4 linked regions of the Homo sapiens genome follow. The protein of the gene in region 4 interacts with the protein of the main gene of each other region in a pairwise test. Each region holds a gene or a part of one and is shown on either strand. Other genes may lie near its edges.

The links.
Region 1: the proteins of DUSP21 (region 4) and RFX6 interact in binary tests that used the Homo sapiens proteins (3 or more experiments, as listed by UniProt).
Region 2: the proteins of DUSP21 (region 4) and BPIFA1 interact in binary tests that used the Homo sapiens proteins (3 or more experiments, as listed by UniProt).
Region 3: the proteins of DUSP21 (region 4) and KRT33B interact in binary tests that used the Homo sapiens proteins (3 or more experiments, as listed by UniProt).

What each region holds. Positions count from the first base shown.
Region 1 is NC_000006.12:116,872,639-116,880,241, reverse strand, and holds the start of RFX6 (DNA-binding protein RFX6), read right to left. Parts: upstream 3,001-7,603; 5' UTR 2,967-3,000; coding exon 2,744-2,966; intron 2,447-2,743; coding exon 2,290-2,446; intron 2,280-2,289; exon of another isoform or gene 2,032-2,279; coding exon of another isoform or gene 2,030-2,031; intron 1-2,029. UniProt on the Homo sapiens protein: Transcription factor required to direct islet cell differentiation during endocrine pancreas development. Specifically required for the differentiation of 4 of the 5 islet cell types and for the production of insulin.
Region 2 is NC_000020.11:33,231,527-33,239,000, reverse strand, and holds the start of BPIFA1 (BPI fold-containing family A member 1 precursor), read right to left. Parts: upstream 3,006-7,474; 5' UTR 2,951-3,005; intron 1,305-2,950; 5' UTR 1,290-1,304; coding exon 1,130-1,289; intron 947-1,129; coding exon 787-946; intron 1-786.
Region 3 is NC_000017.11:41,366,794-41,374,354, forward strand, and holds the start of KRT33B (keratin, type I cuticular Ha3-II), read right to left. Parts: upstream 3,021-7,561; 5' UTR 2,958-3,020; coding exon 2,610-2,957; intron 1,198-2,609; coding exon 1,115-1,197; intron 1-1,114.
Region 4 is NC_000023.11:44,839,606-44,845,397, forward strand, and holds DUSP21 (dual specificity protein phosphatase 21), read left to right. Parts: upstream 1-4,415; 5' UTR 4,416-4,527; coding exon 4,528-5,100; 3' UTR 5,101-5,283; downstream 5,284-5,792. UniProt on the Homo sapiens protein: Protein phosphatase component of the sperm flagellar doublet microtubules. May act as a regulator of sperm motility by mediating dephosphorylation of sperm doublet microtubule proteins.

The sequences.
Region 1 (7,603 bases), on a different chromosome or scaffold from region 4:
GCTCTGTGACATATAAATATGAATGGTGAAATTGAAGATGATGGGTATTTTTTAAAACATTCTTAGTACTAAAGGGCTGTCAAGCTTCAGGTTGGCAAATGCTTACATTCTCTCACTTTCATTCAAAACCTATTTCTCAGCCCTGAATAATTAGGGAAGGACAATGATGCATTTATTTGCAAAACACATGAGGATAAACTCATTTTACTTAAGTCTGAAATGACACTGATATATTTCTATTCCTATACTTTTTACTACTGTCATCAGTACTATAATTATCTAAAACATCCTATACACTTAAAAGATAATGTAATTCTCTATAGATATCTCCAAACATAACATATATACCTTCAACTTTATATTATAAAAATAACTATATAACCTTTGAAAATTTGAAGTAATTCCATTTAATTTGTAACTAAGCATAACTTATATAAATGTAATAAATACATATTTGTGTTACAACTTTCTAAACAGCAATGTAGAAATTAAACTTTTAGATTCCAATCCCAGTTTTCCTAACAGTTCAGTAGGTGATTTTGACTAAAATTTACTTATACCAATTTTATGTATAGTAAGATAATATTTATTATAATGCAGAAACGATGCAATATAGAGTCTGCAGATTAAAATTGGATGAAACCCTTCAAAGATTTGATTTAAAATATCCTAATGTGTACAAGATAAAGGCTAAAGAAAGTATTCCCTGAACAGGTAAAATATCACTCATTTTTTTAATGAAGAACAAAAAAAGACCAAAAACTAAGATCTAGTGTTTCAAAATATGAAATCAATATATGTACATAAAATCAGTTGACATACTAGTTGATAGTGAAAACTGGAATTAATCAGCCAGCTTTTTCACTTTGATTTTCAGTTCTAGTTTATCTATTTAAAAATTATATTTTAATTACATGTACACAATGTTCACATTTCATCTTGCTATTTTGATACTGTTGTAGTCGGCATTGTCTTTGTCTTCAAAATATTAAATCATCCTAGACATAAGTATGATGTTCATTTGGGGTACAAGTTTTTTCTTTGATCTTAACTTATATATATTTATGTATACATTTATTCATAAAAGAAACATATATTTCCACACACTCAATTTAAATGGAAAAAATGGAGTAATCATTCGAAACAGCTCAATAATATATCTGAAATCAAAACACTTTTGCCCCAGTTATCCTGCTGCAAATAGTTGTATCCTAAATATCCCAGATATTTAACTCAATTACTTAACTGCTCTAGTATATTCTTAACTAGTAACCACGACATCAACTTCAATAGTTAAACTCCAACTTTAGATGAATATTTGGCTTATATTTCAAATATTTTGAAAGGGTTCAAGCATATAATCACAAAAAACTACTATATGTAAATTGTAATTTAATATTTAAATAAATAATAAAAATAAAATTTACTAGTTCTTTATCTTGTATTTTTCTAAGGCTCCTTAGATCATACTTTACACAAAATTAGGTTATGTAACTAATCAGTAAATATATAGTCCTTTTTATTAGTTTGTTTTTTACTTGGAATTTGTGAGGAAATTTATGCTCCTATTTCTTCCCACTACGTAGGAAAGTTTAATATAATGCTTTTACTTTAGAGCCGTCTTTCTTTTAGATAGATATTACAAAATGTTCACTCTATGTGGAAATCCTACTGATAAATTCTTGGTTTTAAAAGATTTTCCACAAAATCCAATTTGTAATATTTTATTATTATAAATCATATATGATAGATGGTATAAAAATAGTTGAACTTCTATTTAAGTTAGTATAGATATCTTAACCGATTTTTTCTATGTCTTCTACCTCAAACACAGTTCATCTTATGGAGTATACACTATTTTTAATTTGCCCTCTTTTGAATAAAGGCAGTGTTAAGATCCTTCCTCATTTTAAGTTGTTTTTAAGAATCATATTTTATAATCTCAAAAACTATCAAACAACAAATATGTAAGGACTGAACTGATTGCATATTAAGCCAGTAAGTCATAAAAACGTTCATTAATGCTTACATTTGAAGAAAATATGGTTTTAGTCAATAAGGAACAACGTAATGTGGTTTTCATTTGTATTGCAAATCCTTCACCAGTACTTGTATAAGTCTCTATACTAAAAATTCAGTGAAAAAAATTCTGGGTTAAATTCTAATTGGTTTTTTAAACTTTCCCAAAAAGTTTGAGGAAGAAGTAAATTGTGAAAATCAAAGATCCTGAAGACGCTGGCTGTTAAAACGTCAACAGGTGCTTCAGTGTACCCTGCGGGCGAGTCTCACCACTGCAGCGTGAGCTGTGTCTGCTTCTTTTTATCCTTCACAATCTGCGTGATGGTTTTCTTCTGAGACAGGTATTGATCCGCTGCTTTGGTTTTGCTGTCGTGGTTGTCGGCGTCCTCTTCTTCAGAGGAAAAGTTACCATTGTTTAAGTGCATTTCTGATTGCCAGTTGAAGGGATGATAAAGAAAAATAGAATATAAAATCAACTAAGTCGCCTTTAAGTGTACCTTAACTTCAAAGGAGTAGCCTACTGGGGTGGGGGCGGAGGGGAGGAAAGGGGGGCTATGCAAAATGTCAGGTCTCTACTTGACATTTTACTGAGGAAATACAAAGATTTGGACAGAACATTCTATATCTGCCTTATGTTTGTTCGGGATGCATTATTATTATTGGGTGCCCTTCTTAGAATACGTCCCCGTCCCCTTCCCAGCTCCGGATGCGGCAGAGCACTCACCTGATTTCACTGCCCCCGGCAGCTCCGGGTCTTCGCCTTTCTCCCCGCCGCCCTGCTCGCCCCCGGGCTGCCCTTCGGCCGCCAGGTACACTGTTTCTTCCGGATAGACTAGCAAGCCCTTGCCCAGGAGCTGCACACAGCAGTCTTCCTGGATCCCCGGGGACAGTTGGGGCGCAGGCTGCGCCTGCAGGAAGGTGTCTTCCAGCTCCGGGACCTTGGCCATCCTCCTGGCCGCCGGACACCTCCGCGCGCGCCGCTCGGCCGGTTCCCCAGCGGAGCCCCAGCCCGGGGCGGGGCGGGGCGGGGCTGGGACCCGGGGCCGCAGGGGCGGGGAAGGAGGCCGCAGGCTCCGGGGTGCCCTGGCTCAGCGCAGAAAGGACGCCGCGCACAGGTACAGCCCAGGCCGCCCGGGAGCCGCGGTGGGCCGCGGTGGGACTGCGTTTCTCCACCTGTCTGCGGTCCCGGCAGATGCTCCCGCGAAACTCACTTTCTCACCTGCGCCTGTCACGCCCTGGGCGCCCACAGCTTCCCCCTCCTTCCCGTTCTCTCAACCTGCGCTGGCCGGAGGACCGTTTTCACACTCAGAGCTCCCAGAAAGATCCCGGGAAGGCTCACTGTCTTCTGCAGGGAAAGTGCAGCTGTAACTGGCCCCATCCCTACTTTCAGGTACACTATTGGGGCACCTGGCCGCGCGGCGTGGACTCTGCACGCCTGGGACAGGGAAAAAGTACACCGGAGTACCGCTCAGTCTTTGCACAGCAGGGACCGGGCTTTTTATTCTGGGAACCTTCCGAGGGATTGGCGAGGGCTCTTCTCAGCATTTGAGGGAAGATCCCATCTCGTCACACACTGCTTTGCTCGAGGGTGCACAGTGGCCCGCACTCCTGGGTCTCCCAGCCCTGGAGGATCTGGCCTCAACCCCGAGAAAAGATTCTTTCTCTCCCATTTACCATTATTTTGTAATTTAAACGCGTCCCTGACGATTACTCATCTCATACCTAGCAGTACGGCAACGGACGTTTGCTTAAGTGAAAAATGAAATTGCGACCATCTTCCAACCCAAAATGGCAATCTCATGGGGGCAAACTATAATCTGTGCTCTCTTTAGACGGGAGCGGTCAGTGGAGACTTGGGATTGGTGTTACCTGACTGCCAGATCATCTTCCTTTCCTTCCACCTTCTGTTCTTTTGACAAATACGCCCAGTGTCTTTATATGTCCAGTGCTCTCCAACAAAAGCAAGGATTCTGCTTTGGATCACATTGCCTCATCACAACCTACAGCATGTCATCTTCTCTTGCAGCATTAGAGAGAGAAATCAGCCTTCGACTTTGACAATATTAAACTACATTACATTGAAATTTAACATAGAACAAACAAAATGGGATCCAAGGTGGTGGGTGGCTGAAGGGTGAATTATGGGAAGGAGCGATACAGTCTAAGTAATACAGCAAAAGCAGCTAAAATTATGAGTGGATTTGAATCTCCCCATTTTTAGTACCACTTGTTGGGAAAGGCAGCAACTCTTTGTCAAAGGTTTTCACCTTATCTGGTACCTCCAGCAGCTAGATCCAGGATGGGGCTACCCACCCCTCCACACTCCTAAAGTGGGTATACCCCTCCAGTGCTTCAGGACAACTTTGCCAGTTTTCTCTACCCAGTCCTCCGAAAGCCTCAGAGCCTGCTCAGACCAGAGGGCTTAGCTGTATGTACAGTACTAAAGTTTAGAATGTTGCCTCTTTACAGAGATACCCTCAGATTCATTCTGTAAAGGGAGTCCCAGTGATTAACTGTGTCTACTTATATGAAATGATAAGAAGAAAAATGTTCAGGAAAATTACTGGAATTTCTTTTTTAAAATACTAACCATATGATAATGTGTTTGTGTGTGTGTGTGTGTGTGTGTGTGTGTAAGTCATACAGACACTACGTGAAAATCTGGCAATTATCCAATTGAACAGATCATTGGAAACAAAAACCACGATCAGTTAAGGCCCTAAGTGAACTTTTTGCCTTAATTTTAAGTAAATCTGTTTGCCTAACAAAATAATGTGAAAGTTATTTGTGCTTCTATTCAAAAATAGGAAGTCTAAATAGGCCTATAGCAAGTAAATAAATTTAATCAGTAATAAAAAAACTTCCAACATAAAGAAAACACATGATGAGATAGCTTCATGAGTGATTTATACCAAACGTTTAAAGAAGAATAAATGCCAGTTCTTCTCAAACGTATGGTATGTGGTGAAAGCAGAGGAGGGGAAAAGCTGTCAATATTCTAAATTTGCTATTTGTAATTATTATAACTAATCTGAGCTCATGAGACTAGTGTTTTAGAAAAGCAGCTCTAGGCAGGAAAATAGGTAAAAATGGAGAATGATCTTTTAAAATAGTGATTTGTAAGATGTTTATTTTTTATATACTCTTTAAGAAATTTTTGTAAGCTATCAACTGTCTCCCAGGGGGAAAAATGCCCATGAATACGCTAATGTAAAAATTTCTGCTTACAGTTTAACAGACTGTAAGTAAAAAAACCTGAAAAAGTTTATTCTGTTTTAAGGAAAAAAATAAAAACACATGATGTCTGAAAGAAGATTCTTTGAAGTTCCCAAATTACAGGGTCTTCATGACTGGAGGCACAAGAGTAAAGGGGAAAGGAAAAGGAATTTGGAGTCAGGTACATTTGCACTCATTCTCTTTGTGCTTCTGGGCATTTAACCTTTCTGTGCCTGTTTCCTTCTCTCAAAATTGGAAAAAAATAGTACATATCTATAGTAGATTTTGTGGGTGTTCTGCTCAGATCCCCTTGGATTTCTTCCACATTTTCTGAGCACCCCTCACCCTGTTTTTGCCTCCTTTGGTTTCCAATACCAGCCCCAAGACCACCACCTGAGAGCTCCTGGGACTTTTCTTTGGAGGAACTGCCCTTAGCTACCAGACCACCATTGCCCATAGGCAGATAGAGCCTAGGTGCCCCTGAGTAGCACTTAGCCAATGACTGATGGTTGAGAACCTTGATCTCATGTTGGATAAATCTGAGGTACAACTTACAACCAGAGCTCCTCTATGGGATCGGACTGAAACCATCTCCCACTAGACCATTCCTAAAATCCCATCTGTGTTGGCTTCTTGCCCTCCTCTGTCCTGCTACCCCTACTCCCTTTCCTGTTTCTCCTGGCAACACTTTCTTTAAATTGCTTTTGTAGAAAAATACTTGACTCAAGTCCTGCTGACATAAGACATCACATTATAGAGTTGATATAAGCATCAAATGAAACATTATAAAGAAGAAACTAGTCCAGTGCCTGAAACAGAGTAAGCCTTCAATAAAACATATCTAATCTTTTTATTCTGAAACTTTAGATCTCTTTTAGTTCACATAAGCAAGGAAAAAAAATTTCTCTCTTTCACTGCAGAAGAATTTTGAGGAACATCTCCTTGCCTAGATTATTTCTGGGCATAGTATTATCTGGAGTGATCATATACTATGAAATTTTCTTCTGTGAAAGTTCATGTCTCTCCTAATTTGTTTTTCTGTTCACCAAAATTATTTTATAAATACGGCAAGTACTTTGCTTTCTGTTAATGAATTTCATTTTGTTTCTTTCAAATAAAAGTAAAGTGAGGTTATGAACCTAACAGCAGAGCCCCAAAATACACGAAGCAATAAATACCATTTTTTGATAAAGGTACTAACACCATTCAGTGGAAAAAGATATATAGCCTTTTCAATTATATAACCACATCTAAAAGAATGAGTTTGGAACCCTACTTCACACTATATACAAAAATAAAAATGGTTCAAAGACCTAAATATAAGAGCTAAAACTGTACAACTCTTGGACTAAAACCTTGCCTTAAGTCTTTATCACCTGGGATTAGGCAAAGGTTTATTGAATGTGATACAAAAAGTACAAGCAATAAAAGAAAAAAGGTAGATAAACTGAACTCCACCAAAATGCGTGCATCAAAAAACACTATCAAGAAAATGAAAAGACAACACACAATGGACAAATATTTTAAAATCGTCCATCAGAATATATAAAGAACTCTTACAACTCAACAATCAAAAGACAATAGCCCAATTTAAAAACATGTAAAAGATTTAAATAGACATTTCTCCAGATAAGATATATAAATGGCTAATAAGCACATAAAATGCTCAATATCATTTTCATTAGGAAAATGCAAATCAAAACCACAATAAGGTATCACTTCACACCCACTATAATTTTTTAAAAATGATAATGAGGTTGTGGAGAAATTGGGACCTTCATACATTGCTGGTAGGAATGTAAAATGATACCACCACTGTGGAAAATAGTTTCACAGTTCCTCAAAAAGTTAAACATATGATCCAGTAATTCTGTTCCTAGGTAGATACTCAAGAGAATTGAAACATAAATTCATACACAAAGCTTGTGTAAAAATGTTTATAGCAACATTATGCATAAAAGTTAAAAAGTCAACACAACCAAAATGTTCATCAGCTGTTCTATACATAAACGCAATGTGGTATATCCATACAAGGGAATATTATGCAGTCATTAAAAAACAGTGAAGCTGAGGCTGACGGATTGCTTGAGCTCAGGAGTTTGGGACCAGCCCGGGCAACATGTCAAAACCCCATCTCTACTGAAAAATACAAAAATTAGCTGGGCATGGTGGTGCATGTCTGTAATCCCAGCTACTCAGGTGGCTGAGCTGAGATCGCAGCCACTGCACTCTAGCCTGGGCAACAGAGCAAGATTTTGTTTCAAAAAAATAAAACGAAACAAAACAGTGAAGCAATGATACATGCTTCAATATGTATGAACCTTAAAAACATCATGTCAAGTGAAATAAGCCAGATATAAAAGGCTAC
Region 2 (7,474 bases), on a different chromosome or scaffold from region 4:
TACAGATGGAGAAACCAAGCACAGAGAGACAGGGTGTCCTGTCCCAGGTCATCCAACAAGTACATTTGAAAATCAAAGTCAAGAAGTCTGTCTGTCTCCAAGTCAGGGAGTGAGACCCTGGGTGGGTAGGATTTTGGAAATGGCTTTGATCCAGTCCTATCCAGGAACCAGGCTCTGCCGGCTCACTGGCATCAAGCTTCCATTCTTGCTTTTTGCTTTGCGAGCTCTTGGGTGTCTCATGGGAAACTCCACGTTAGACCTTTCCATGGACATCACACTGTTTTTCATCACATTGATATCATCAAGGTGGGCAGGTTATACTCTCGCTAACATCAAAGGCCGTCTGTGTTCTAAGGGATTTCACAGGTGCAGAGAACAAAATGACCACAGTGTAGTGGGAAGAGCCTTGGCTTTGGAGTTAGGATAGTAGAGTGAGAGCCTTACTCACTTGGCATCACTCTAGCAGCGTGAACACAGGCACCTCTGTGCTTTGGTTTTCCCATTTGCAAACTGGAGATTATTAAATCGACCTCAAAGGGTTGTGGTGAGGATTATAGATGATGCTGGGGCCTCAGGACATGCCTAGAACTGAGGGCATTGCTGGTTTGGGGAGGACGGGTGTCCCTGCCAAACTGGAGATGGGTCTCAGAACTGAGTCCTGGCTCCATCTTCAGGCCGCTCCCTCGCTGCTTCAGGGTCGCTGCTTCAGGGTCACTGCCTGGGGCTGGCAGATCTTCACCTGGGGTTCCCTGGTGGAGATCAAAGCTCTATTTTAGGACAACTCACTCAATGATGTTGTTCAGGCCAGGAATCACTGACGTCACTTTTCCAAGCAGTCCCCCAAGGAGGCCACCAGAAGTACCTCCTCCAGGCTTCAGGATGTCCAGGAGCGGAAGGTTTTCCAGAATGCCCAACAGGCCCCCAGACAGCAGGCCATTGCTGAGGGCTGGAAATGGGTGTAAGGGTCTCTGGGGGTCAGATCTGACAATTCCAGATCCTCAGGCCCCCTCCCCCATCCAGCCCTGTCCCTCCCCACTTTGCAGGGTTGGACACACACACACACACACACACACACACACACACACACACACACACACACACATGCACACATACACCCCTGAAAACTCACCATTTGTCAAGCTTCCTGCAAGACCTGTGGGACTCAAGGGCAGGGCTGGATTCACATTCAAGGGCAGGGTCTGGTCCAGGGGCACGGGCAGGCCTCCAAACTGGGCCATGGTCTGGGCTAACAGCCCGTAGAAGACAATGAGGCCCCCAGTTTGAAACATCTTTGCTCTTAGTATCTGTGGCCAGAATGACAAGTCCAACATGGCATGGGTATCAGAGAGGAATTTATCCACCACCTGCCCTGACACCTGGGGGGTGGGGTTGTTTGCTCCCCAGAACACCAGGGGGTCACTAGTAATAGCTAATACTGCTGAACAATTTCTCTTTGCCAGGCAACAGGCTGACCACTTTACACAATTTCATCTTCATCACAACCCTAAGACATGGGCACCTGTTACCTGCATTGCACAGGTGAGGACCACTGATCAGGGGCCTAAAAAGGAGACAGCCCCACTCCACCACATTCCAAAGAAGAGGGTTTTTTTCCTTCTTGCCAAGAATCCCAGCCTCACCTCACTCCATCTTGCCCACAGTTCACTTGTCTGATTTTCCAGTAGGAGAAACCAAGGCTCACAGAGGTCAAGTGAGTTTGCAGTTGGGAGTTTCAAATATACTCCCATCCCTTCTTGAAACCCACTTGTGTACTACCGAGTGTGGGTAACTTTCCCCAAGGTCACAAGTACACGGTGGACAGAGGATTAGAAGCTAGAGCCAGGTGAACCCTCGGTTAAATTAAGTAACCATCAGATTTATTCTCCAATCGGGCTTGCTTCAATGGTTTGAATCATTGCTGCTCTTCAGACAAAGCAAATGAGAAGGGTTAAACGTGCAAGTGCTGAAGAATTGAACTGTTTTAGATCATCCCTGTTCAGTCCTTTGGCCTGAGCTCAGGCCATGATGGTTGGTGGATGCCCTTGAAAGTCACACAATACAGGGGTCGCATGGCCACAGCCACCATCTCATGTAGACCTTTGTTGGGGAATTCCTGGGGCCATCAAAGTCTTCATTGCATGAGAAGAACCAGGAGACCAAAGAGGGGTAGTGACTTTCCCAAGGTCATACAATAAATTGATGGCAGAGCTGTGGTTGAAGGCAGGTCTCCCAACCCTCCCCTCACCCAACACACAAACATGCATTCTATCATTTTGACACCTTTCTCTTCTCCTTCAAGCTGCCCTGGATGGAATTCCGGTCAACCCCTGAGGTTTGGCTTGCAGACCTCTCACAGGTCTATTTGGCAGCCAGCAGAGTTGTCCAGAGCCAGCACTAGTACCTACAATTTGGAGACAACTGGTGACTTTGTGCAAAATTCCATCTATTGGCTGACTCAGCTAAAGCTCCATCCTTGTGGTGGAAGGCTGGAAATGAAAGGTCTTTGGTCCAAAGAGCCAGTTGTGCCCTTCTTAGGGAGGTAACTTTGACCACAGCCTCTGAATCTCTTTTGGGCAACAGACCCTTTATGAATCCAATGGAAGCTAAAGATCCTAGTCTCAGAAAAAATGCATCAAAATGTATAAAATTGGGTGAAGAATTTTAGGAGGTTTTTGGATCATCTGTATCCACATTGGTAACCTCAAGCTAAAACTTATGCCTTAGAGGCTTTCATTTACGGCATTAATAGTGCCCATTTCTATATCAATGTTACTGGTCTCTTAGGACAGCAGAGCAAATGGCCATCCCCACATCCCTGACATTGGCCAGGTCTGTTTCTCTTGCACAGCCCCCAGTGAGTGATCAAGATCACTCACTGCCCCACAGGGCAGGAGCCTGAGATCCCTGCCGTTAAGGGTAGCAGAGGGGCCACAGAATGGATGGCTCTTACCTGGACTTCTTAGAGGTCTCAGCAGCTGTCCTGGTCTCCTCTCTCTCCCCCACTCACTTCTGCCGAGGAGTCAGCCTCTTTTATAGTATGGGGACGAGGAAGCATGTGTTGGGTGATGGGTTTCTAGATAATTGAGAATTCTGCAATCTGACAGTGTCTTTCAGGGCTCTCCAAAGTAAATAATTGCCAATCACATTAGCAGGTGAGACAGTTAAGCTATTTGGTCAACAAGATAAACAGAGAAAAACCTGAGATGGGATGTTACTCAAGACTTTATGGTTTCCTGAGCGGAGCCAAGGTTGGGGACCCACGCTCCCAAGGTAGCTTGGAGCATTGAAAGGAGCAGCCAGACAGAGCCCAGGAAGGGACCTCAGTCTCATCTCTTGGCCCCTTTCCTCTCCTGCTCTAATTTTTTTGCTCCAGTTGGAGGATTCTTTCTCCTAAAATGTCAAAAGAGTCACACTGCATCCTACATCTGGGGTGCGTCTCCATTCCAGGGCAAGGGTCTCCTGTTTTCAGAGCCCCTATTGCACGTCAGGAGCTCTCTGTCCTCACAAGAACCCTGAGAGGGAGAGGTGACTCCTCCTCTTTTATAGAGGAGGAAACTGAGATCCAGTGGGGACAAGTGCTGAAAGACCCAGAGAGGATGCAGCAGAGTTAGAATGCAACTGACTGGAGAATGAAAACAACAAAAACAACGCCAACAGCAGACACTGGCCGAGCTCCTGCTGTATGCCTGGCCTGCCATGGTGTTCACAGGCAGCATCTCACAAAATCCTCACAACCCTGTACTCCTATTCTATAAGGGGGAAACTGAGGCTGAGTGTGAGGCAAGTTGTCCAGAGATGCAGTGCTTGCCTGGGGTGAGACATCCACATTCAGGTCCTTTCCCCGAATCACTGCACTGAGAGATGAAGGTGCCTCCCAACACTTGCTGGCCATTTTGATTTCCCCACCTGTGAACTTTACACTTTCATGCGTCCCTTTTTATTTTTTAAATTTTCACTTAATTTTTATTTTATTTTATTTTTTGAGACAGTCTTACTCTGTCGCCCAGGCTAGAGTGCAGTGGTGTGATCTCAGCTCATGACAACCTCCACCTCCCGGGTTCAAGTGATTCTCCTGCCTCAGCCTCCTGAGCAGCTGGGACTACAGGCGAGCGCCACCATGCCTGGCAAAGTTTTTGTATTTTTAGTAGAGATGGGGTTTCACCATGTTGGCCAGGCTGTCCTCGAACTCCTGACCTCAGGTGATCCACCTATCTCAGCCTCCCAAAGTGCTGGGATTACAGGCGTGAGCCACAGTGCCCCGCCGCTTCTCTTTTAGGTCCTGGAAAAGTCTTTCCAGGTTCCCAGGCCTGAGGGATCCTTTGGCATCCTGGTCTCTATCCTACCCTTTCTTCTACCTTTCCCTAAATGGAGTAATCAGGCATTTATTTATCCCCACCACTGGGGCCCTTGGAGTCTGTTCAGCAGATGAAAAAGTGAAGACACAGGAAGGCCAAGGTCCTGGACCAGTGAGCGCAGCTCTTACCCTGCAAAACCTAACACCTTATAAGCAAAAGTGGAGAGAGAAGGAATAAATGTGCTTTTATTAAGCACTGACTGCATGCCAGGTGCTCTCCATATTTGAACCTCATCTTCTTCAGGAGTGGTTGGTATTGTTGTCTCTCATACATTGGATGAGGAGGCTGAGGATCAGAAAGGGTGACTGCTTCCTGGGGACACACAGCGAGTGAGTGTTGGAGTCAATTGACCCTGCCACCCTCTGTGTCTGTCTGAGTCCCTGCTAATCAGTGGGCCACACTGCCTCCCTCACACTAGGCCTTCACTGGCCTGCTCCACTGCTCTCCAGAGTCTGGGTGGTGCCCCCAAGGGTTTGGGGCCATGGCTTTGAACTTAATTATCCATTCAAGGTACTTGCTGGACTCTGCCCACATCTTGTACATGGCAATCATCCTCACAGTGGTCCCATCGTATAACTCTTGTGGGTTGGGTCAGGTTGCTACTATCCTTGTGGGGAAACTGAGGCAGATAAGGCAAGGAATTAGTAGAGTTTGTGCAGCCAGTTAATGAAAGCTTACACCCTCTGGTTTGAGGCCGGGAGGCTGTGTCTGTATTGCAGCAGAAAGTGGGTGAATTTGGGCTCAAACAGCCCTGGTTCAAATCCTACGACCCTGGGCAAGTCAGTCCAGTTCCCTGAACTTCATTCAGTTTCCTCACCTGTAAAATGGGGAGCATAAAATCTGCCTCACAGGGCTATGGGGAGATGATGTCTGGGGAGCTGGTATGAATCACAGTTCATAAACTCAGGCGTCCACACATCTTTCTGATTTATCTATACTTTACCATTTCAAATGCCATTTTGCTCAGGAACAGAAATGTCCCAATTTCCCCCTGGGGTTTCATGTCTGTGCTAGGGGCTTTGTTTGTACCAAGGAGGCTGCCTGTCCCTATTTTTGGCTGGCAATATAGGAGACAGCCATGTGCCATCTGCCCCTAGATTGCAGAGACACTGTACTTCCCTCCTGGTGAAAGGTCCCTTTGGATTTAGCATTTACTTTCAACTCGTTTGTAAGACACAGAATTGTTCTGCTGTTCGCCAGTTCCTTGGGCCTGATACAGGACTGTGAGGGGCTGCCCAAGCCCTCCTGCCTGGATCCACCTAGACCCTCCCTTTACCCTTCTCTCCCTGGGGTCTCATGCCCTCTTCTGGCTCTGGGAGGGAGTGTGGACACAGACGCCCTCTGTCCCTGGATCCCATACATGTGCCTGGGATTCTGTTCCCTTCATCCCATGCTCAGGTCTGCCTGGGAGCAGCAAGGGACGGAGGCACCATCAGAACCCACCAGAACTATGCTCCTTCCAGTTCTCCTGGACCCTCACACTTCACCAACCCAACATAGGGCATTTTCTAGTTTTGTGGGCAGGAAGATTTGCTTCAACTTCATTGTGTGTATGCTGTTCTCAGACTCTCCTATGCCCTGAGTTTAACAAGTCAAAAGCCAAGACTATAAAAACAAAAAAACTTACAGTAAAATTGACTTCTTTTAGTGGTATGGTCCTTTGAGTCTTACCACATGTATAGTCAGCCACCATCATAATCAGGGTAAAGAACAGTTCCATCCCCCCAAAGGCACTCTCATGGGTCCCTTTACAGCCACACCCTGCCTTCATCTGCTGGCAACCACCTGTTTGTTCTCTGTCACTACCACTTTATCAAAAACCCAGGCTCTTGAAAGTCAAGAGCCTTGTTTCTGCTTCTGTTGAAACTGCCCTTCCTTGTGGCCACAGGGACTGCATGCTCCCTGCCCTGAACAGGGGAAAGGTCTCAGGGCACCAGGAAACAAGTGGAAGGACACACCACGAACATTTCAAGAGGTTTTCCCCACTCTGGTGATGTCAATACCCTCTCCATGTGTTTCTCAGAAACTGTAGGTGGTGCCTTTCCTTCCTGCTTCTCAGGTTGCAATTGTGTTTGGGAGCCTTTGCTCAGGTTGTTTTGTCAATCAAGAGATCCATTTCTGGCCGGGTGTGGTGGCTCACATCTGTAATCTCAGCACTTTGGGAGGCCCAGGCAGGTGGATCATTTGAGGTCGGGAGTTCAAGACCAGCCTGGCCAACATGGTGAAATCCCATCTCTACTAAAAATACAAAAATTAGCTGGGCATTAGTGGTGCGCACCTGTAAACCCAGCTACTTGGTAGGCTGAGGCAGGAGAACTGCTTGAGCCTGGGAGGCGGAGGTTGCAGTGAGCCAAGATCATGCCGCTGCATTCCAGTCTGGGTGACAGAGTGAGGCTCTGTCTCAAAAAAAAAAAAAAAAAAAAGATCCATTTCTAAAGGGCAGAATTGGTTTGATTTTTCAAAGGGCTCTGACCTATGCAAGGTCTGTTCTCCAGAATGTGAGAATGGGATGCAGGATCTCCTCCCCAGGAGAAAGGTCAGCGTGGGGACTGAGTTGCAGAGGGTCTTCAGATGGCCTTGGAAGCTCCAGAGCATTCCCAGAGAGCCAGAAACCCCAACTTAGATGAAAAAAATATATATTCTCAAGTAGGGTTTGCTTCAGGCAAGCTCCCCTTGCTTTTGAGATTAATCTTTGCACTTGCTTTTAAAGTGCAAAAAAAAAAATACTACTACTAATGATAACCTTTTGTGAGACACTAGAGCTTTATGCCACCTGTAACAAGCCTGTGGGGAAACTGAGGTTCAAGGAGGGCTGTGACCTGCACAGGGTCATCTCAGCTGGGAAGAGGTGAAGTCAGACTGTCATCTGGGGCTTCAGTGCTCTTACTTCAAGTGCAAGTTTGCATCACAGTTTTCAGTTCAGAAAGCACCTGCCCATCTTCCCTGGAGCCCTCCCGTTGGTGGAGCGCTTCCCCTGCCAACCCCCTTTCTTTTTTTTCTTTTGAGACAGTTTCGTTCTGTCGCCTAGGCTGAACTGTAGTGGCGCCATCACAGTTCACTGCAGCCTCGACCTCCCGAGCTCAGGTGATCCTCTCACTTCAGCCTTCTGGGTAGCTGGG
Region 3 (7,561 bases), on a different chromosome or scaffold from region 4:
TGAGACACACAGAAAAGGTATTGGTGGAATGCCTGTGGATAGTTTAGTCTAACACAAACTAAGTTTGTTCTAAGACTCTCGTTTACAAGTTACTATCAACTAAGCCCTGCTGCTTTTGCCATCTCAAGTGAATCAGTGCCCTTCATAAGCCTGCTCCAGGTTGTCCTGTCATCCTTTCCAGCCTTGCCAAGAAGCAATCTAGTGTTGTGGAAGAAACACTGAATTCAGAGTTAGAGCCAGTATTCTCATTAAATGACTGTAGATAGATACCTTTATCTCTCTGAGGCTTGATTTCCTTAACTGTAAAATGAAGACAAAACTAACACCTTATAGGGTTGGACTGAAGATGATATATGTAAAATTATGTTGTAAAATGTAAGATCCCAGGAAAATGCAAAGGATTCTCATGATTGTAATAATGGTCATACCTAAAAGTATTGATTGATTCTCTGAAAGGCAATGGATTTTGCCTCCTGTTTTTGTGGTTTAATAACTTCTTTTTGGGGGGTTGACAGTGACTAACGTATACAAAGAGACCAATGTGAAAATCACTTTCAAACTTACTCCAGACGTTGGGTTGAAAAGGAGTAAGAATGGATGGTGTCTTACAATCAAACTTAAAGCACAGGGCTGCGCACAGTGGCTCACGCCTGTAATCCCAGCAGTTTGGGAGGCTGAGGCGGGTGGATCACTTGAGGTCAGGAGTTCAAGACCAGCCTGACCAACATGGTAAAACCCGGTCTCCACTAAAAATATAAAAATTAGCTGGGCCTGCTGGCGCATGCCTGTAATCCCAGCTACGAGGAAGGCTGAGGCAGGAAAATCACTTGAATCCGGGAGGCGGAGGTTGCAGTGAGCCAAGATTGCATCACTGCACTCCAGCCTGGATGAGAGAGGGAGACTCCATCTCAAAATAAAAAAATTAAAAAAAAAAACTTAAAACACAGAATCTGAGCACCTATTGAAGAGGCTTTGACATTTAACCTAATCCTAACCCAATGCAAGAATCCTCCCAATAGAAATTTCTGCTTCCACATTCCAGGATAGGGAGCTCATCACTTTGTAATTCAGCCTGTCCGTTACTAGACTGCTCTGATGGTTAGGAAAATCTTACTTGGTTCTGAAGTCATCTGCAGCCAGCTTGGCATTGTCGATCTGCACCACCAGCCTGGCATTCTCAGACTTGCTGCACAGGATCTGGGGATAGGATTAATCATGAAATGGGTTATACTAAGAAATGCCTTGTGCCTTAAAGTGAAATGCTATTTTCTTTCAGCCACATTCCTCCCAAATAGCTTTGAGTCCTTTCAGATTTTCAGCTCTGAGATAAAAGGAGGATTTGATCATAAAACTGATCATTTCAAAACCAGGACAACCAATGTGAATTCATCATGAATTCTATTCTTATCTGCTTCTGGCTTCCTGCAATAATTAGGTTACTGGGTATCCAACCCTTCGGTTGGGTGACCAACCATCCCAGTTAACTTAGGACTGAGGGGTTTCTGGGATGCTAAAATGGGAAAAATCCCAGGCAAGCCAGAACAACTTGGTTATCCAACACATTCCACCTGCTAACTTCTCTCCACTCTCCCCTCATATTGCCCTTGTTCATGCCTTTGCAAAAAGCTTCTTGCTGTACCCAGAATGCCCTCACCCACTAGCAAGACCCCTTGTGTAACCCACATACTTAATCAATAACACTTCTTATGACCTTTGTGTGATCATTTTGTTTCCACATCTATCTCCCCTGTTAGACTGTGAGCTCCTGAAGGAAGGAGACTGTCTTACTCAGTACATTATCCCCCACCCCAGCACTGTGCCTAACACTCTCCAACTCTGGGTAAATAAATGAATGATATTCAAATAGCACAACCCCTTTCTGGCATCTAATTTTCCAGATCTACAGAACAGTGGGCAGTCAATTCCCTCCCAGAATCAAGGGCTTGTACAATTGGATATAAACTCCCACTCATCCTTCAAACCCCACTCAGACATTGCCTCTTCTGGGATCCCTCCCAAACCTACACCAGGTATTCAGTCCCAATTCTCTGTGGACTCTTTACTTATATCTACTTCTCTTCCAGAACAGATGGCCCCATATTGTCATCTGTACACATGGCTGCTCTAGAGGATGGTCCATGTGTCTGTAGATATTGCTGGAGTCAACAGCTCTCTTGTGTTGCCATAAATGCTATATTTTGCTACAGCTTTGAAAGGCTTTAAATATTTGAAGATTTACTTAGGAAATTCTTAGCATAGAAAATAATTCAGGTGCATACTTTTTGAAAATGCGGTAATGCTCTGAAAACAAAACCAGGGTATCATAATCAAACCAAAAAATCAGATATTCTGGTTTGGAGTAAGACGCCATATAAGATTGCTATGACTGATTTTGGTCTAATGCTTCACTCTAACACCAGCCTGCATCCTTCCTTTGTGGCTCTACAACAGATTTTCTAAGACTACTTGATGTCATACCTAAGCCAGTGAATCTATGTCTTTATCATTCTCAGCATTACTGTGAACAGACTTAGATCCATTCACAGTTTAGTATGTCAAATATAGATAAGTAGTTCATTAAGCTGGCAGTGTGGTGCCCACCTCCTCACCTTCTGCTGGAGCTCCTCAATGGTCTTGAAGTAGGACTGGTAGCTGGGGCACAGCAAGGGCTCCTGCTGCTGAGACCGCTCCCGGATGAGGTTCTCCAGCTCCGCGTTGTCCCGCTCCAGCTGACGCACCTTCTCCAGGTAGCTGGCCAGGCGGTCGTTCAGGAACTGCATAGTCTCCTTCTCGCTGCCATTGAAGGAGCCCTCGCAGAACCAGTTGCAGTTGCTCACATTGGCAGGGATGTTGCAGGCCCCGGGCAGGGTGTAGCCGTGGCAGCTGGGGGGCACACAGGGCCGGGAGGAGCAGCTGGTGCGGCAGCTCAGGCTGGGCAGGCAGAAGTTGTAGGGCATGGTGCAGGGAGGCAGTGGAGCTCTGGAAGTCAGTTTCAAAACCTGATTCCTTTTCCCTGGGATAAGCCTTGGTCCTTTCCAGGGCTTTATATTCTGTTAGCAGTGGGTGTGGCAACCATGTCAAGTATTCCTCCTTTTTACCTCCTTTGCTGATTTTTCCATTTGTTATTTAGCCACTTCACCTGAGTCCTATACCTCATTAAATGTTTTACTCTGGCTTCTTGCTAAGTCAGGACTCCTCACAAAACATGCTGATTGGTTAAGTAAGAGCTTCATGGTTTGGCTTCAAAGTGACCAACCTTGCCTGTAGCAGTGCTTATCCATGGGACATTGAGCTAGAGTGACAGCTGGGCCCTGTCCCCAGAGTAGGGGGCACATATGTGCCTCTTTCTCCTAAATGAGGAAAGGCTTGTGTCTCATCCAGTTCATATTCAATTAAGACTCTGTGAGAAAAGCCATGTAAGGAAACCCGTCTAGAAACTAGACTATGTGATAGGGAATCCTGGAAGCTGAAATGAGAAAGGACTTACAAGGCCATTGGTTCAAGGCCCATTTGCAGTTCCATCCAGGCAGATGGAGGCAACTCTACCCTCTTCCTATGGGGCTGCAGGAAGCCACCCACCTCCGTTTCTACTAGTATTCAGTGTTCACAGAACATTAAGAAACCTAAATTTTGGGAGCACCTACTCTGCATGAAGCACTGTGCTCCATGCCTGTGCACAGCGTGACTCTGTCATTGGTGATGGGTCCTGCTTGCTGAGCCTCCACTGTGCACCAGGCACAGTGCCAGGCACCTCATATGCACCAGCTCCTTCAGTCCTCTCAAAATGCTGCAAGGGTTTGTAGATAAGGACCCTAAGCCTCTGAGAGGTCTCCCAAGGTCACAGAGCTCCTACATGATGGAGCCAGGGTTCAAATACAGATCTCTCTAATTCCAATGTCCACACTCTGTCATATTACATGTCTCTCTCTTCCAATCTTTTCAGTACTGAGATGCAATAATGCAAAAAATACAGATTGAGCTCCATTGAGCTCAATCAGTGCTGACAATATCCTAAATTAGAATGGGCCAAAAAATAACAAGCCTGTTTTTTACTTATTAAAGAACCAAAAGTCACTTCTATGCTGAAGGAAGGAAGTTTACTAAGTGAAAATGCCTCATACCCACTAGAAGCTTGAAAAAAAAAAAAAAAGGAAACCCTTGGTTGATCTGAGGGAGAAATACCCAAGCCTAGCTCTCCAAAGGATATGACCCTGAAAATCCACCACTATGTCATGTGCATGAAGTGGCATTTTATGACCATTGGCACATTTTGGCAAGCAGATGCTCTACTCTCATGCATTCCAGATGGAACTATGAAATATGAGGATTTTATGTTTAATCTATCAGTGCTCAAATTCTGAAAGATACTCCTCCAAGTTGTTCCTTTTGGAAGCTACATATTAAGTCTTGCCATACAAGAATTCTTTTCCTACAGGTGACCTGCCATTCCTCAGATCACCCTTCCTTCAAACTTGCCTTCACAGCTTGGGACACATTCTTTTGGTTATCCTCATTGAAGGCCAATCTTCATCTTCTATGGGTGTGTTTATTTTTGGAACCAGCCAGAAGTCATTTGAAACCACACCTAGTGCATAGGGTGAATAACCAAGCTGCATAGCATCTTTAATGGGTCAGAAACAGGTTGTGACTACAAAATAATAATGTGTGTTTTCTTGGGTGACTCTGGAAGTCATTTCCAAGGAGAAGCTTCAAATATGCTTTTATAAAGGACAGCAGCTTTGGGGCAAACATGTGGTCTTCCAGGGTGAATGCATTGAAGGTACTGATATCCTCCCCTACAATCACAATCCACAACTTTCTGCCCCTCCTGCCTGAATCTCTAATTTTTTTTTTTTTTTTTTTTTTTTGGAGACAGAGTCTCACTCTATTGCTCTATTGCCCAGGCTACAGTGCAGTGGTGCAATCTCAGCTCACTGCAACCTCCGCCTCCCAGGTTCAAGCTATTCTCCTGTCTCACCCTCCCTAGTAGCTGGGATTAGAGGCGTGCACCACCTGTAATGTGCCTGGCTAATTTTTGTATTTTTAGTAGAGACAGGGTTTCACTATGTTGGGCAGGCTGGTCTCAATCTCCTGACCTCAGGTGATCCACCCGCCTCAGCCTCCCAAAGTGCTGGGATTACAGGAGTGAGCCACTGCACCCGGCCTGAATCTCTACCTTTAAAATGATTCCACTATCAGTGAGATGTGGCATGGGCATATTGGTTTAAAATCAGTACCAAACCATTAAAGTCCTATTGGATGAGATCAAATAACATAAAGCAAATAGCTGAATTCATTAGCTTTTCTCTAATTACCTTGTGTTCTTCTCTCCTTCTTCTACGTCCCAAGCTTCAAAAGGAAAAATCTGACAATGGCACTTTTTAAAGAAAAGGGAAGGAATAGTGTGTCACAGACTGGTAAATATGTCCACAGGGATCCCTATAACCATTGCTGTAGCTTCTACCTCAGTCACAGTGGAATAATCCAGAGATAAGTATCCTTGTGTCTTTAAAAGTGGAGGTCAGAGTTTAGAAAACACAACTATTCCCACATCTTGAGTAGAAGTAACTATAATTTCTGCACAGCTACTTGGCCATTATGTACTAATAGTTGGAAGAACTTGGGTCTATGGAGAAAAGAGCCAAGTTTCAATTAGCTTCTCACAAAGTCTGGAAGGCAATTGCTTTTTACTTACTCCACTTGCTGTGTACTGTGAATTCTTATCTTTACATGGGTGATGCTATTGTCTCTGTTCAATGGCCCTTCATTAAACATGACAAGTAAGTCAAATCCTAACAAACCGAAAGGTTTTATACATGCCCATGTAATAGCGGCAGATGCTATGGTTGAGGCTTCTGGTCTTAAGATGTGAGCAAATTGCAGTTGAGGTTTAAGGATGCTATTTATTATGGAAGCCCGGGCTATTTCCATAGAAGAGATCACATGCCAACCCACCAGCGATGCTTAACCACGGAGTGGACATAGGATGGGGCTTCTGCTGAGGCCACCTTCCTCATTGTGGGACTTCAAAGGCATTAGGAGGCCTCCCTCCTTCTTCCCAAAGCCATCTTCTCCAATGTCCAGGCTCTGGTGCTTGAAATTGTCACCGTGAGAAATGTAAAATTTATTCTTTTAGAAATACGAAGTTACATTGGGCTACTTGAAAATTAATTATATTTTAATATGTACAAATGAGAAGGAGAGGCCAGGAGCAGTATCACTACATGCACACAGAGCAAGAAGATGGACTTTTTGCCAAAGAGGGATCCCAGAGGGGAATTAGAAAAGCAGAAAGACTGTCCAATAACAACCCCAGCCCATGGTTTTGGGCCAGCCTGTTAGAGCTTCCTAGAAGAGCAGAAGATAGGGCTTCCACAAACTGTTCCATAAAGGCAACTGTTGTCAATTTATCAATCCTCCAGCCTCAGGACATTGAGAGGAGAAATTGAAGGGGTAATTCAGGAAATAAGCCAACAAGTTTGGCCCTGTTCAATGGGGCTTCTGATAAGGGACAAGCAGGAGAGGGGCTGAAGAATGAGCCAGGTCAGCAGTAAGCTACGCTGAGCAAAAACAGATACAAACACCTCAAAATGGAACTCAGGAGGTAGTTCTACAAATCCTCTCCAGAGCCACCATGTTTCTCTTACACTCAGTCTTGGACTCCCAATGGGAATGGAGTCTTGGAGTCTTCAGGGACCAAGCCAAGTCAGAAAAATACAAAGTTCATCTATGCTATGTGTTTTTTTTTAACTTTTATTTTAAGTTGAGGGATACAAGTGCAGGTTTGTTACATAGATAAACTTGTGTCATGGGAGTTTGTTTTACAGATTATTTCATCACCCAGGTATTAAGCCTAGTACCCATTAGTTATTTTTCCTGATCCTCTCCCTCCTCCCACCCTCTACCCTCCAGAAGGCTCCAGTGTGTGTTGTTCCCCTCTATATGTCCACGTGTTCTCATCATTCAGCTCCCACGAGATCTATGCTATGTTTTTGACTACTCTAGACTATCAACTCAGTCTAGAATAGACAAGAGCATGACACAATCCAGGACGATGTAATTTAATGGTGCTAGTCTTCCTGAAAAAGCTGGATCCAGGGCCCACTCAGAGATGGAATGAAAACCTATATATGTGTCCTGCTCTGCAGATCAAGGGAGAGGGCAGATGCTAAAACCTTTTGACAGTACACAGAAGATAAAGCAAAGTCAGCTGAGTACAAATGTGTTGTGTTGAACTTTTGCATTACACTCACTATCACGTTGGTGATTTGAGACAGACATGAAAAAAACATGGAAATACAGCTTCTTCCCTCAGCCTCCCACAGACTCTGTTCTCTTTATAATCACCAGGAGTCTCCCCATTGCTTTAACCAGTAGATTTGTCTGATTCTCACCATCCTTGCCCTGGATGCTGTTGACAACTCTTTCATTAGAGCTCCAACTTCTTTTGACTTCTGTGTCCTTTAAGGTGCTTCTCCACTTCCCTCTCAAACTGCTTGCAACCAGATGTCATCTCTGTCCTCAAGATCTGGCAAAACCAAGGCTGAACCTCACATCAGGG
Region 4 (5,792 bases):
TTTTTTTTTTTTTTCTGAGACAGAGTCTCACTCTCTTGCCCAGGGTGGAGTGCAGTGGCACGATCTTGGCTCACTGCAACCTCCGCCTCCTGGGTTCAAGCGATCCTCCCATGTTCAAGCAATCCTCCACCTCAGTCTCCCAAGTAGCTGGGAGTACAAGCGTGCGCCACCATGCCCAGCTAAGTTTTGTATTTTTAGTAGAGACGGGGTTTCGCCATGTTGGCCAAGCTGGTCTCGAACTCCTGACCTCAGGTGATCCACCTGCCTTGGCCTCCCAAAATGCTGGGATTACAGGCGTGAGCCACCATGCCTGGTCGCATGTTCTCATAAGTCGGAGCTAAGCTATGGGTACACAAAGGCATGTAGACTAGTATAATGGACATTGGAGACTCATAATGGGCGAGGATGAGAGTGGGGAGAGATTTAAAAACTACATATTGGGAAGAATGTACACTACTCAGGTGATGGGTGCACTAAAATTTCAGACTTTGCCATTATACAATTCATCCATGTAACCCCAAACCGCTAGTACTCCTAAAGCTATTGAAAGAGAAAAGAAAAAAATTCTCATCACCATTAATGGAACAGACAAATAACATATGCCCCTGGTACGATGTACTGAGAATCACACACTCTGGTGGTCTTCTTGCAAAAAAAATTTCACCTGAATCTAATCCCGAGGGAACAGTCAAACAAATACATCTTGAAAGATGTTCTGCAAAACTGGCCTGAACTCTTTTTTTTTTTTTTTTTTTTTTTTTTGGAGACGGAGCCTTGCTCAGTCGCACAGGCTGGAGTGCAGTGGTGCAATCTCGGCTCACTGCAAGCTCCGCCTCCTGGGTTCACACCATTCTCCTGCCTCAGCCTCCCGAGTAGCTGGGACTATAAGCGCCCGCCACCACGCCCGGCTAATTTTTTTGTATTTTTAGTAGAGACGGGGTTTCACCGTGTTAGCCAGGATGGTCTCAATCTCCTGACCTTGTGTTCTGCCCACTTCGGCCTCCCAAAGTGCTGGGATTACAGGCGTGAGCCACCGCACCCGGCCAAAACTAGCCTGAACTCTTAAAAATGCCAATGTCCAGCAAGACCGAAACAAAATAAAAGACTCAGCAACAGCTCCAAATTTAAAGATGCTAAAGAAGCATGACGGCTAAATGCAATGTGTGATCCTTGATTCAATCTTGGATCAAAAGAAAAAAACAGCTATAAATAATATTATTAAAAGACTTGGTGAAATTTGAATATGGATTACGTGTTAGATGATAATATGGGGCCAATGTTAAATTTCCTGAGTATGGTCATTGTACTGTGGTTATGGAAGAGCATGTACTTGTTCTTTGGAGATATGTGCTGAAGGGCTAAATTGTTGCTATATCTACAAGAAACTCTCAATGTTTCAGCAAAAAGAAACAAGCAAATAAATAAATATGTGTGTCTGTATATCAAAATAGATAAAGCAAATGTGGTGAAGTGTTAACAATAGAACTATAGGTGAAGGGTAAACAGATGCTCATTGTTCTGTTCTTGCAGCTTTTATGTAGGTTTGATATTTTTCAAAACACAAACTTGGACACTATAAATAATAAGTAATAAAAACAAAAAGACTTTTCCCAGTCACGTTTTCTATTAAGCCTTCCATGACATACACCTACTGCCCCTGGCCCCCAAACACTCACCTAAAACAATGAATCATACCCTCTCTTCTGGACTCTTCCAAGGTTATCTATCTCTCTGACCAAAGTATAAGCTCTTGGAAATCAGGCCCTGTATTGTGATGGATCTACACTGCTAGGACCATACCTGACACAGATTGGATGCTCAGTTGATCCCGTTTTTAAATTAATCAAGCTGAGTCTTGAAGCTCGGATAGAATTCAGGAAGCAGAGAGGAGTCAGGCTTCTCAAGAGAGAGGAATGGCATGAGCAAAGGTAAGGAAACAGGAATGTACATTTTGTATTTACCAAAAGCGTTTGCTTTGTTTGGTCAGAACTGAGGGTTTATATAGGTGAAAATGCCTAACACACTATAGATTCTTAATAAAAATCTGATGAATAAATGAATGAATGAGATTTGAAAGGCAGGCTTAGATTAGAAAGGGCTTTGACTACTGAATTGAGAAATTTGAACATTAACTAGTTCTTAACATCCAGGGTGTTTTCCCAGCGGTGGAAAGAGAGTGTGTTATTGGGCAAGTCCATTGCACATTTTCTTCACTAAATAACAAGGAAAATTGCCTCCATCAGTGTGTTAAAAAAAAAAAAAAAAAAAAGGAAAAGTAGAGACAAGTGGGATCTGAAAGTGACCTGCTTCCAAACTCAAGGGGAGAAAACGTTATCTATCCAGGAAAAGCTCCATAGCGGAATTTTAAAACATCCAACATCCCTCAGACTAACAGGTGTCACAGAATATGAAGAATAAATAAATGAATCTATTTAACACGGGTCATGCTTGTCTTTGAAAATAGTGTCTGAGGCCGGGCGCGGTGGCTCATGCCTGTTATCCCTGCACTTTGGGAGGCCGAGGTGGGTGGGTCACCTGAGGTCGAGAGTTTGAGACCAGCCTGGCCAACATGGTGAAACCTCGTCTCTACTAAAAATACAAAAAATTAGCTGGGCATGGTGGCGCGAGCCTGTAATCCCAGCTACTCATGAGACTGAGGCAGGAGAATGGCTTGAACCTGGGAGGCGGAGGTTGTGGTGAACCAAGATCGCGCCACTGCACTCCAGCCTGGGCAACAAGAGCAAAACTCCGTCTCAAAAAAAATAAAAATAAAAAAAAGAAAAGAAAATAGTGTCTGAAATTATTTTGTTAATTGTACTTAGTTTTAAAGTTTAAGAAGTGTATACTTATGAAATAAGTAGACTCCAATACTAGTTTAGGGCCTCCACATTACTACATAGATTACAAAGCTTCTCCGTTAGCCCAGCTGAGCTGCCCCCAACAAACAGTTTTCATATTTATTTAGTATTCGTGTTCTATTTTCTTCCAGATAGCTTTGTGGGGACTGACAATTTAAGTAATGCAAAATAATTTGATTATGACAACTGAGAAAAGAAACGTGTGTTGTGTTTTGAGGTTATCATTTCCTTGACCATCATAAGCAGCCTGGTATCTATTTCATCTTTGTTCGTAATCACAGCACACCTTTGAACACATACCAAAATGATGATGGAATGAGAGCAAAGTATGTGAGTCAATTGGCTACTCTGTGAAACAATTTGTTAGTTTTAGGCTATAGTTCTTTTCAATTTTCAGCCAAATTCTATAAAAATCTTAGCTGGAAGGAAATGCAAATGTCAGGTTACATTTTAGAAATTAATTTTTGGGCTGAGTGCTGTGGCTCGTGCATGTAATCCCAGCACTTTGGGAGGCCGAGGCCGGTGGATCACCTGAGGTCAGGAGTTTGAGACCAGCCTGGCCAACATGGTGAAATCCTGTCTCTACTAAAAATACAAGAATTCGCCAGGTGTGGTGGTGCGTTCCTGTAATCCCAGCTACTCGGTAGGCTAAGGCACAAGAATCACTTGAACCCAGGAAGCAGAGGCCTGGGACTCTCCAGCCTGGGTGACAGAGCAAAACTGTCTCAATTTTTGGCCCAATTACCATGTAGCATTAACTTGTTTCAGAATGTTTAATATTACTGGGAAGACAGCATCGGTAGTGGTCAAAGTGATTTGTAGTTCACAAAGCATGTAGGCATTTTTTTTTGAAGAAAGTAAACAAAATAATTTGAACTGTTGTTTCAGGTAATAAAATAGACTCATGCGGTAAGTCATTTGAGCTGTATGTACAAATGGACTATGACACAGCTAAATTAGTCACAACTGTCCACCACAGGCCAACTTCAAGATAAAGGGCTATATATCAGTTAGCAATGCTCTCTTACAACCAGCCCTGATGTGTTTGTAAGCAGGAAAATAATTTTATGGTTACAATCAACAAAGAAGTATCAGGCCAGTCCACCAAGCCCAGCCAAATCCCATATCTCGCTCCAGTTTTATAGAGATTAGCATATCACATGAGCCAAATGCTGTTCCCCAACTTAGAATGTGATATTGCTATTTTGCAGGGAAAGTGTAAGCCCTGTTCTGCAACACTGATGAAATAGAAGTATTCATAGATCTTGTTTAACGTGGTCCAATAATTGAAACATAAAATAGATATCTTGTAACAGAACATTTTTAAAAGTCAAGAAAGATAAGAATTAGGCCTTGGAAAATAAATGACTATGAAGAAAGATAAAAAGAAAAGAGACTGGGGTGTCTCTGAAGACCCTGCTTAGAGGCCCTGTCCTCCTTGCGGCAAGCGGCCATTGCCATGGAAACCGGAGCCGCAGGGCTATCTGTCCGGGATTGTGACGCCCAGATGGGAGTGGTGAGAGGAGACAGAAAGAGGGTGGTGGCCGATAGCTGGTCCTCTTTCTCCAACACCTAGCCTGAGACTTGGCGGCGCGGCTGCTATCCTGAACTAGCTTGGTAAGTGTTGTGTCCCGAACCAGCGTAGAGAGACCTCGGACCAGCCGCCTTGATGACAGCATCCGCGTCCTCCTTTTCATCATCTCAGGGTGTCCAGCAGCCCTCCATCTACAGCTTCTCCCAAATAACCAGAAGCTTGTTTCTCAGCAATGGTGTGGCCGCCAACGACAAACTCCTTCTGTCCAGCAATCGCATCACCGCCATTGTCAATGCCTCGGTGGAAGTGGTCAACGTATTCTTCGAGGGCATTCAGTACATAAAGGTGCCTGTTACCGATGCTCGTGACTCGCGTCTCTACGACTTTTTTGACCCCATTGCTGATCTTATCCACACCATCGATATGAGGCAGGGCCGTACGCTGCTGCACTGCATGGCTGGAGTGAGCCGTTCCGCCTCACTGTGCCTTGCGTACCTCATGAAATACCACTCCATGTCGCTGCTGGACGCCCATACATGGACCAAGTCGCGCCGCCCCATCATCCGGCCCAACAACGGCTTTTGGGAACAGCTCATCAATTACGAATTCAAGCTGTTTAATAACAACACCGTGCGCATGATCAACTCGCCGGTAGGTAACATCCCTGACATCTATGAGAAGGACCTACGTATGATGATATCAATGTAAGCCATCCCGGCCAGCCCCTGACATCTGCCATCGATCTTGCACCAAGACTGAACTTGAACACTGACATTTTGTTAGTAAAGAAAACCGGATGGTGCCTTGTTAAAGGGCAAGAAAAAAGGGAGGGGGTTGGAGTTTTGAACGTAGTAAGCCTTACCTTAATAGAATTAAATTCATGAAACATAAGATAGTGAAAATATTTTTTATATTGTGAGGTCAAGCTATTGGGGCCTGGCTGGAACCAGGGTGGGGCAAGTAATGCTCAGCTCACATAGACCTGCCAGCAGCACCCAATACATGTGGCAGACCTGGAATCCTGAGCCCTGCCAGAGGCTGACTAACCCAGGAGTGAATCCCCTAGAATCTCACCCGGTTCTTTCCAACCCAAAGTCAAAGCCTTAGACATCTTGGCATCCCTTGCACTTCTCCCAGTAAGTGCCAACCTAGTGGATAAGTGGCTTTCATTCAAGCTGTGCTCCAGGAGCTCTGGAGGAGTCTCAGGCTACCCTTGCCCACCTTCAATCACAGTGGCCCATCTCTGGTTTTCTAGATCGGATTTATACATTAGTTAAAAAAAAAAAAACTAGTTTTTTAAAAGACCATTCCACTCCATAAAGTTTAAAAATATTGTATTTTTTTGACTGCTGTACTTGATGGCAAGTTCTCAAGGTGTCTTTGGTGATCTCCCACCGGCC